2 separate regions of the Homo sapiens genome follow, and region 2 is linked to region 1. A link means that fine-mapping ties the variant in region 1 to the expression of a gene that starts in the linked region. Tissue or cell type: whole blood. Region 1 holds a variant in brackets; the other region holds the start of a gene. All regions are shown on one strand. Distances are from middle to middle.

Region 1 (5,204 bases):
GCTGAGGGACAGTCATTCTGCCTGTTGGTCCAGCCCACCTCACTGCTGCTTCTCCTAACAGCTTCCTGCCCTACTCAGAGAAAGTCAGGCACGTACCCGAGTTCTCCCGAACACTGAACCCGTCCCCCCGGCCACATGGACATCTCAGGCAGGTCAGAGTCACAAGCCTCAGACTTCTCAGATAAAGTTCTTGGTGAGGGCCCTCTTTCCCCTGCCATTCTGAGGTGGCAGGCAGGGTGAGGGTGAGAAGCAGGCTGGCCACCAAGATCCAACACTTGGAGAGAGCCAGGCTGGGGCGGGCGGGAGGCGAGGGTCACGGGGAGGGGCTGCTGCGGCCCAAGTGACCTGTGAGTCTGCAAGCCGGACTGCCTCGGCAGGGTGGCTCTATGTGAGGCTGCGCTGAGAGCCCATGCCTCAGCTCAGCGAGGCAGAGCTGGGTCCATGGGCCAGGGAGCCGGCCCAGGTCTGCTCTGGGAGTCTGCTGGTTGTTTGGCATCTGCTGGCCCCCAGACTGGGGCTGGCTGGCAGTAGGTGTTTGTTAGAGGTCCGTTCAGTGTCCCTCTCCTTACCAAAGTGTGACTTGGAGACTCAGACAAGGAGTTATGAAGGGCTGCCTGGAGGAGGCGGCTGAGGAATGAGCAGGTGGGTGGGGGTGGAGTGTGCAGGGAAGGGGCTTCTCACCTGTGTTACGGGTGGTGGCTGGGGCTGTGGTTGCCTTGGCGAGGCTGCCCTCTGCTTGGGGTTGTGCAGTGGGCACTGAGGAGGCCTGTGCCTTTGGAGACTCTGAAATCCAAGGAAAAGTGCAGGTGAGGCTGAGGGCAGAGGGCATGGATGTACCAGAGGCTGGGTTGTGGACAGGCAGGTGGGGGGCACAGGCAGCCAAGCAGGAAGAAGGGAGGGGCCGCAGCATGGGGTGGGAGCTTGGCTGTGGGAAGCCCACTAGACAGTCACCTTTGCTGGGCAAGCTGCCTCCGTGCACACTGAGGGAAGGGTCTGGAAGGAAAGTGATCTGGGTATTGGGAGATGGGCCTCAGAGAGAGGGAGCGGAGGGACTGAGATGGGGAGGGTCCGGAGGGGTGGATACAGGGTGAAGGGGGAGGAACGTGCTCTGAGGGGGAGGTGGGGGTTGCCTCACAGCCCAGCCCTTGCTTCTGTCTTTGTGGTCAGGCCCTGAGTGGAAGGTGCTGGGGGTCCTGGGGGGCCCTTCTGGGTGATCTCCGGTGCGACCTACCTGGCCAGCGGAAGATCTCCTTCTTACTCTTGCTGGCGGTGTGCTGGACCACGCATTTGTACTCGCCTTGGCGCCACTGCTGGAGGGGGGTGGAGAGCTGGCTGCTTGTCATGTAGTAGCTGTCCCGTCTTTGTATCTCAGGGAAGGTTCTCTGGGGCTGGCTCTGTGTCCCCATGTACCAGGTGACAGTCACGGACGTTGGGTGGTACCCAGTTATCAAGCATGCCAGGACCACAGGGCTGTTATCCTTTGGGTGTCTGCACCCTGATATGATGGGGAACACATCCGGAGCCTTGGTGGGTGCTGGAAGACAGACACAGTGGGAGTCTGAGGCTGGAGGCTCTGAGGACAAGGGGCAGGGCAGGGCAGAGGACCCTGGCAGCAGGGTGACAGGGAAGGCAGGGAAAAGGGGCCCAGGAGGAGTGCCCAGGGTGAGCGGGGCTGACCAAGTGGCCCGTGAACACGAATGCCCCTGCTGCCGCTCCTGTGTTGTGAGTCAGAATAACCGAGTGGGACCTGTGGCTTTGTGGACCCTGGGCTCTTGTTGCCGAGAGCTCCTGGAAGGGAGGGGTCTTCCCTCCAGAGGCTTTGGTGCCCCTCTGGGCATTCCTGGGACCTCCACCTTCCCTGCTGCCCCCAACCTCTCTGGAACCCACTTCCCTTGGGCCCCTGAGGGGAGGAGGGGCACTCAAGCCTGGGAGCAACGGGCCTAGGGCTGTATGACCCTCCTGCCCAGGCTCCCAGCCACGGGTCCTCAGCTGCCCTGCAGGGGCCATGGGGTCCCTGTGGAGGGCCATGCGTCTGGCCCTCTGAGTGGCTCCGGAGGAGCTGGTGGGATTGGATGCTCCTCTCCCTGATTCCTGGCCCCAGGGGCTCTGCTGCCTGGGATAAACCCATGAGCTGACCTGGCCCCTTGTAAGGGGTGTTACTCATGGACAGCAGGCTGTAGGGTGGCAGGTCCCAGAATGTGTGGCTGCCTGCTGGGCTTGGCTCTCAGCCTCACTTTCCTGGAGACCTGGGTACCCAGGGCAGCTGAGCAAGTGCAGGGTTCTTGCCTGGGTCCCTGGAGGCCCCAGGTGCTCCGTCTTAGTCTAACCTTCTACTCACCCCCTGCCTCCACCCATGTCT[G/T]CCCACCACCACACTGACTATTGCTGCTCAGGTGGGGCCAGGTGTTCCCGTTCTTTGGCCTGGTACGCAAGGTCATCTGGTGTGGCGGTGGCCCCATCCTCCTTCCCTTCTCCCTTGGGGCAGAAACTGTCGCCCTGCTTTCCCAAATTCTGGATGACCCTCCTCTTCTCCCCATTTACATCCTTTATCCTGGGATTTTCTGAGCAGGATTGTCAACCCATTGTCAACCCTCCACATCCTAGGCAGTATTCACGGCCCATCTCAGAATCTTCCACCTGAACAGTGTGTTCCTAATTCCCTTCCTCGAGCCACCTCTTGGACCCCTCTGGGCTGTTTTCATTTTTCCCTGAGGTTCTGGGATGTCAGCCCTGCCAGGCCTCCCTCTACAGCACCACTGGTGAGACACTAGGGATGGGTCTTGTTATGGGTTGAGTTGTGTCTCCAAATAAATGGACGTGTTGAAGCTCTGACCCGTAGGGCCTCAGAATGTGCCCTTCTTTGGAAGCAGAGTTTTGCAGATGCAATCAAGTTAAGATGAGGTCACGCTGGAGGCAGGTGAGCCTCTGACCCAATATGGCTGGTGTCCTTATGCAAAGTGGAAATTTAGACACAGACATGCACGCAGGCAGAATGCCATGTGAAGGTAAAGATGGAGGCGGAGGAGCTGTTTCCAAAAGCCAAGGAACACCAAAGCTTTCCAGCAAACCAACAAAAGCCAGGACAGACACCTGGAACAGATTCTCCCTGCCAACCCAGGGGAGCCAACCCTGCCCACAGCTTGATCTCAGACACCTGGCCTCCAGAAATGAGACAGAATACACTTCTGTTGTTTCAGCCATGCAGTTGTGGTACTTTGTTACAATAGCTCATAAGAAACTAAAACAGATTTTGGCTTTAGAAGTGGTGGCTTAAGAGAAGCAATTAAGACCAATTCGCCTTCTAGTGGAAATAAGACATCAAATACAAAGTTTTAAGAGAAGTGAATGCAGCAGCGGCGGCTGCCTGTCTCTTACCATGTCGGGTGCCTGGTCACTGCGAACCTTGCAAAAGCTTTGGCATGGAATCATTCCTCCAAGTCCATTAACAAGGGCTGGGGCCTGAGCAGCCAGTCGGCCCGGCGGCAGAAGCCACGCATCCCAGCTCCGGGTAGTCCGGGGAGACCCAAAGCCCAGGCCGGGCCTGGCAGCCACCCTCCCAGAGCCTCCACTAGGCCAGTCCTGCTGACGCCGCATCAGTGATTCTGAACAGAATCTGTCCTTCTAAGGTGTCTCCACAGTCCTGTCTTCAGCACTATCTGACTGAGTTTTCTCTTATGCCACCAACTAACATGCTTAACTGAAATAATTCAGGGTAATGATTTATTTATCTGATTTAATTGATACCTAAAACTGTGGAAATGAATTTGGGATAGGGTAATGTGTAGAGGTGAGAAGAGTTTTCAGGTGCATGTTAGAAAAAGCCTAGATTTCCTTGAAGACTATGGTAGAAATTTGGACATTGAAGGTGATCCTGGTGGGGGCTCAGAAAGAAAGAGGAGAGCTATAGAGAAAACTCCTGTCATCTTAGAGAATACATAAATTGTCACAAACAGAATGTTGCTAGAAATGTGAATGTTAAAGATGCCTCTGGTGAGGCCCCAGACAGAAATGAGGAAGATGTTATTGAAAATTGGAGGAAAGGTGACCTTTGTTAGAAAGTGGCAAAGCACTTGGCTGAATTGCATTCTATTTATGGTAAGTAGGACTTACAAGTGATGAACCTGGATTTTAGCTGAGGATATTTCTAAGAAAAGTGTTGAAGGCACAACCTGATTTCTCCTGACTGCTTATAGTAAAAAGTGAGAGAAAGTGTTCAGTAAACAGGACCCACAACTTGAACAGCTGGAAAATTCTCAGCCTGTCCAATAGCATGCTCTGGAAACAAGGCCAAGGATGTGTCTGGGCAACCATTTGTTAAAGAGATTGGAATCATGACTTATGGATCCAATCAACCATCTCAGCAGAAACCAGGAGTAGAGATAAGGTTATTGAGGATATAACTGTGCAGGGCTCTCTTGTCTGATGACTCAAACCCCCAGGAATTTCATGGGAAGCTGACAAGGATTTTGTGAATTGTAAAACAGAAGAAACAATGCCAATTGGATGGAAGGGAAAGAAGACCAGAAAAAATGAAGGAAGGGTGACTTTGAGATCAGAGCCAAAGATGAGGAGGCTGTGGGGGCTCTGGCCACCATGGGCGAAGAGCATGGGGTCACCCCAGTGGGCCTGGAAGATGGAGCACGGACCCAGGAGGATGAGCCTTGAGCCTTAAATCTAATGCAGCTTTCCCTGCTGGGTTTGGGCTTGCTTGGGACCCATGGCTCCTCTCTCCCTTTCTATGTATCCCTTTTAGAATAGGAATGTCCATCCTATGCCTGCCCCATCATTGTACTTTGGAAGCAGATAACTTCTTGTCAAGTTACAAAGGTCCACAGATGGAGAGGAATTTCACCCAGAATGAATCTCACCCTGGGTTTCTCCCACACTTGATGCAGGTGATATTTCGCTGAGATTGTGGACTAAGAGTTGGTGCTGGAAGGGGTCAGCCGTTCTGGAGATGTTGCTATGGGATGCAGGGATTTTGCCTGTGAGAAGGACATGATTATGGGGGGAACGGAGGGCAAACTGTCATGGGTTAAAATGTGTCCCCTGTAAATTAATGTGTCGAAGTCCTAACCCCCAGGACCACAGAATGTGACCTTGTCTGGAAACAGTCTTTGCAGCTGCAATCAAGTTCAGATGAGGTCACCCTGGAGTAGGGCAAGCCTCTGATCCAATATGACTGCTGTCCTCATGAAAAGGGGGAA
Region 2 (5,204 bases), 71 kb after region 1:
CTCTGTGCCTGCCAGATGGCGGCCCCTGCACAGGTGCTGCTGGCTGTGGAGGAGCTGGGCTCTGCCTCCCTGTGCATGGGCGTCCCTCTCGGGCTCTGGCCTGGGAGTGTGGCTGAGTTGCTTGTCTCCGGAATGTACCAACTGTGCCGTCCTTGGGGGTATATGTCCTCGGGGGGATACGGCTCTGTGCCTGCTCCACATCAGGCCCCAGGAGCTGCCAGCAGGTACCAGCCTGCCCTGCCACACAGTGTGCCTGCAGCCTGTCCGGGGATGCCCAGGGAGGTGAGTGCCACCACATATCAGGCCTTTTCTCTTTAAAGTCATTTCTTTGGGGATACATCATCAATGTCTCATATACTGAATGTATGTCTGTATCATTGTGCAATTGCCTGTGTCATCGTTTATTTATCCAACCTGGGTTAATGTCTTTGCTATTATGAACAGTGCTGGACTGAGAATTTTCTAAACACAGCTGTGTGCATTTTCCTCTTCTTGCAATTTAGAATTTTAACTGCTGTTTTCAAGGTACTGTAATGTATTTGTTCTCTTCTTGTTAGGAGACTTGCCAACCCTGTGTGTCTCAGTTCATACCCTCTTCCTTCCCCAGTAGAAGTAACGACCACTGTGTTTATGTGATCATCCTTTTCTTGATTTTCCTTATAGTTTTCCTAGTGGAAAGTTTATCCCTTAAGAAGATAGTTCATTTTGCCGGCTGTAAATTTTATTTAGAAGAAATCACATTGAAAGTATTTTTTGGACTTTCCTTTGTTACTCCAATTACTCAGCATTGTCATGAACTCAACCACAGAGTCACCTGTAACCCTCACTGTTGTCCTTCTGGCTGTCTGGGTTTGCATTTCATGAACCTGCCATCGTTTATTTGCCTGTTTTCCTTCAGATGGCTGTTTGCTTCATTCTCAGTTTGGGGCTATGACAAACATATGTTCTGCACATCTTTGCCCATGAGGCTCTCAGGGAGGGCTCTGGAGCTGGCATTGCCTGCAGGGCTCTGCTTTGTTGCAGGGAGTTCCTGCCAAGGCTTTTCAGAGTGTCTGTGCCCAGCCTGAAGGTACACACTGTACTTTGCCCTTGCATCAGGCACTTTCCTTGTGCTTGCTTCTGTGTGGCTCCACATTCTGGAGAATTTATTCAGATCTGTGCTGCAAATCCATTTCACTGATTCTCTCTTTAGCTGTGTCTACATCAGCTGTTAAGCATCCCATGATGCAGCATTGTGGGCACAGGGCAAACTCTTGAAAGATGACAGTGTAGGATAGCGGCTGCTTCTCCTTCCCTGTGCCCTTCCCACACTGTCCTCCTGGGCTCACTCCCAGCCATCGATCTTGAACACCAGTTTATGGAACTATCTGCACAGGAAAGCAGAAACAGCAAAAGGCCCTGCTCAGGCTCTGCCCGCATCCCCTCTTGCACACCCGCCAAAGCTCTTTCCTTGGGGCCTGTGCAAGCTTCCCAGCTGCTTCTCATTTTCTGTTTACTCTGCTCACTGGCCAGTGGGGTGATGTCTGGGGGGGAGTCTGGTGCGTTTTGGGCATTGATGGCCACCCCTAGGCCCTACTTCCCAGACGCTCCCCCCAGCCCCTCAGCTCCAGAAGTGGAAGCGTTTACAGCAGGGCTTTGGGAATGGGGCTGTGTCACTGTGGGCATAGCAGCTGGTACTACTACAATATCCTCACAGTGACACGAGCCCCCACAAAATCCTCCTGTCCCCGCGGGAGTCACTGAGTCCCCTCTTGCTGTCTCTGGCTAGTTCTCCTGCTGATACTATGATTTCCAGGGGGTTTTTGTCTGAAACTCAGGGTGTGTTGGAGAGGACTCTGAGCCCAGTGCTGTACAGGGGGCTCCTCCTTTGTCCTGGGGGAGTTGCGTGGACCCTGTTTTTGGTCAAGGGAAGTACTTGCTGGTGAAGGAGACCTCCCCTCCTTTCTTTCTCAGGAGCCCCCTCTGATGCCGTTGCCTGGTGTTTCTCAGGGCTGGTGCTGGGGGCTCAGCAGTGTCTGCCCTGTTCCAGGTGGGAATGTGGGTCTGTTCTGTTTCCACGCGGTGTTCTGGGGCCGCCAGTGAGGGGCTCGGGATGTCAGCGGCTGGTCTCTGTCCCTATGGTCTGGGCTCCGGTTCACTGCTCCCCTGCCCTCCAGGTCGGTCACTGACTCAGTTACTATCCAGCGGGCTCCGTGGCTGTTCAGTGGTGGCTGCAGGTCTCTTCCCAGGAGAGGCCTGCGAGAGGGCTGGGCTGTCTGGGAGCCCTGCATTCTCCCATGATGTTGCTGCCTGGATCCCTCGTCTTTACAGGGAGTGCCGAGCCTCCCTGCAGGTGCGGGCAGTGAGAGACACAGGCGGACGTGCATCAGGGTGCTGGAGGCCGATTTCTTTCAGTGCCTTCTGCCTGTGGAAGGGCTGAGCTCCCTGCTTCTGTGCACAGGAGGCTGCCGTGTAACCGGGCAGTGAGGGCAAGGGCCTGCATGGGGAAGACTTGGGTGAGCCTTTGTCCTGGAAATACCAGGGCTGGGTCCAAGAGGGGAGCAGGGTCAGAGTGTCCAGGAGGAAGGTGAGGGCATGGGCAGTGTGGGGGTGGGAGTGCACGGTCAGTGCCATGGCTCAGGGGCCCCAGGAGAGGAAGAGCTCGAGTTGTGGGCAGGAGGAGGCAGGGGGTAGGCACAGAGGGTAGAAACTGAGGCTCTGGCAGCAGAAAAGGGGAGGGCCTGCATGTGCAGGGTTGGCCTGGGAGGGGTGTCTGGAGGGAGAGACAGGGGTCTGGGTGGAGACCAGGGTGTAGGCTGCAGGGATGGGACCCCAGGGTTGTCTGGATGGGCAGGAAGAGCAGCGGGGGAGAAAGGGCTGGAGGCAGGGTTGGGCCTCCCCAGGGTGTGGGGTGCAGGGAGGGGCTGCACAGGCTGTTCCCCTGAAGGAGGGAGGAGGGAGGGAGCACAGAGGTGCTGGGAGCAAATGGAGAGGGAAGTGGCAGCGGCCCGAGTGCCAGGCGGTCCCGGTTTGGGGTTGATCTTTGTGGAACAGCTCCCTGGCCCGTGTGTAAGTGGTCGGGGGAGGCACGGAGGTCTGGAGCTACAAGCGGTGGCAGGAAGGCAGGTCCCAGTCTTGGGGGTCTGGAGCTTATCTTCTTCCTGTGAACTGAGTGTGGGCAGCACCTATGGGCGGTGCCCTGGACCTGTGGTCTGGTGGAGTCCAGGCCTCCCAGGGACAGCAGGGCAGCCAGGGCTAGAGGAGCCTGAGGGTCCAGGTCAGGGTGGCCCTGGGGCCACTGCCTCCACCTTTGACCAGCTCTGCTGTGGGGATCTGGGCATGAGACCCCTTCACCCAGGAGGGGAGCCGCGTGAGTGAGACCCTAAGTCCATACCCCATGGGGGGCTCTGACCCTCCTGCATAGGGCCTGGACAGGGGTGGGTGGGGTGTGCGGGGGGCGGTGGGGAGCCCAGACTCTCCCAGACACAGCCTGCTCTGCTCCAGAATGTGGGCTTGGGCACTGCAGGCTGGCTGGGTCTGGGCTGCCTGGTGTGCCTGTGGTGGCTGCATTCCCACAGCCGGGACTGAGGCCTAGTGAGGACCAGGGAGGAGCCTGAAGGGAGCTCCATGGAGGACCTGCCTCGGATGACACCCCTATCTTAAGAAGGTCATGGTGGGTTCCAGCTGGGAGGAAGGGAAGTGGGCCACCTCCTGGGGGTCTTCCACCCCCACCACCTCAGCCTGGGGCCTCTGTGATTCCTCTCTGCACAGACCCCAAAGTCTGTGCTGCCGCAGGGCAGGAAGGAAGGGCCTGTGGCCTGGTCGAGGTTGGGGCCACAGTGGTGTTCCCTAAGCCCGAGTCTGGTCTCATGGCCCGCCCCGCAGCAGGTCCTGAGTGAGGGACAGAGACCGGGGCGGGGTCTTTGGTCCTGGTGGACTCTGGGGTGGATTCCAGTGGGGAGTCATCAGGGTCGGTGTCCCCCAGGGTACTGGGGTGTCTCTGCTCCTGGAGTCGGCTCTGGATGTGGGGTTTATGCCTGTGCTGCCTGGGGTTGATGCTGGGAGGTGCCAGTGACCCCCGTTTCCCTGAGGGACTCTTGTCGGTGGTAGGGTCAGTTCTGGCCAGGAGCACTGGGACCATAGCAGTAGGATGGGGTCCAGCCCCTTCCATGACCCCCTGGAGCCCTGGTCCCCGTCCTCACCATTCAGTGGGGTTCAGTGGGGACTCCACTGTGCTCTGGCTGCTGGGGGTCGTGTGAGCTGAGCAGGACCTAGGTTCGGGGCGGCTGCTCCCCTCTCTGGCGCGGCCTCCAGCAGGGGCCAGGAGAGAGTTTTGGACACAGTTTTTCTCACGGTGGTCGTTCCAGTTGTACCCACCGTGACTCGGGGCTGTTCAGAATCTGCCCCGGCGCCCTGAGCTCTGGGGCCTCCTGGATGGGGGCTGGGCTTGTGGGCGGCATCTCCTTCGGGGGCTCTGGAGGCTGGGGCTCGCTTTAGTTGTGGGGTGAGCACTGGGAGCCCCAGTTAGCGGAACACCCACAGAGACCGGGGCCTGTACACATTCCGCCCCGGTGTGTGGGGTGGGCCCAGGCCCCTCTGGGCAGGTCAGCTTCAACGGGGAGGGTGCTTGGGTCCTGTTAGTTTTCCTCTGGGTTAATAGGATTCATCTCCTGGCCCCAGATCCTCATAGGCTGCCCCTGTCCCTCCAGCAATGCAGGACATGGCAGGTCACCCTGGAGGGAGGCATGTTCTGGCCTGGGCGTCAGGTGTGGCACCTCAGATCCTCCATGCGTGCTGTGGGCTGAGCAGGACAGCAGACGACCCCGGGCCCCCACCCTGTCTATGGACATTTTTTGCTGCAGCAGCTGTGGGAGCTGACAGTGTTCACAGCCACACCAAGGTCATCATTGTAGTCAAGGCTTTCTAAAAGTTTCATTGTGAGGAAGCCTCCTATTAAACGGCGCCTGGGCCCTGCTTCCTGAGGGTTACTGCTGAGTCCCGGATTTCCCGTAGAGGCGACGAGAGGAGAGCAGAGGGAGGAGGAGGGGGATGAGCTGGGCCCTGCAGAAGGGGGTGCTTGGGTTGGGGTCTGTGGAGTGAAGATCTGGGCTCCTAGGGGCCACCCAGACAACCATCCTCCCTGTTCACACCTTGAGGGTCCCAGCAGGAGCCAGGTGGGGAGACTGTGAGGAGAGGGCCTGTGTCTTGTCTTCCTTGGGCCGTGG

The links.
Region 2: it holds the start of FAM30A, and the variant in region 1 is fine-mapped to the expression of FAM30A in whole blood (TOPMed, PIP above 0.99).

What each region holds. Positions count from the first base shown.
Region 1 is chr14:105,844,144-105,849,347 of GRCh38, forward strand. It overlaps IGH and IGHD. Among named protein-coding and RNA genes, the nearest start is that of MIR4539, 11 kb to the right of the region's middle. The variant G/T (reference allele first, on the strand shown) is at 2,360.
Region 2 is chr14:105,915,166-105,920,369 of GRCh38, forward strand. FAM30A (family with sequence similarity 30 member A) reads left to right here and starts at 2,814. Exons shown (of 6, transcript NR_026800.2): 1 at 2,814-3,652. It also overlaps IGH, IGHD2-2 and IGHD1-1.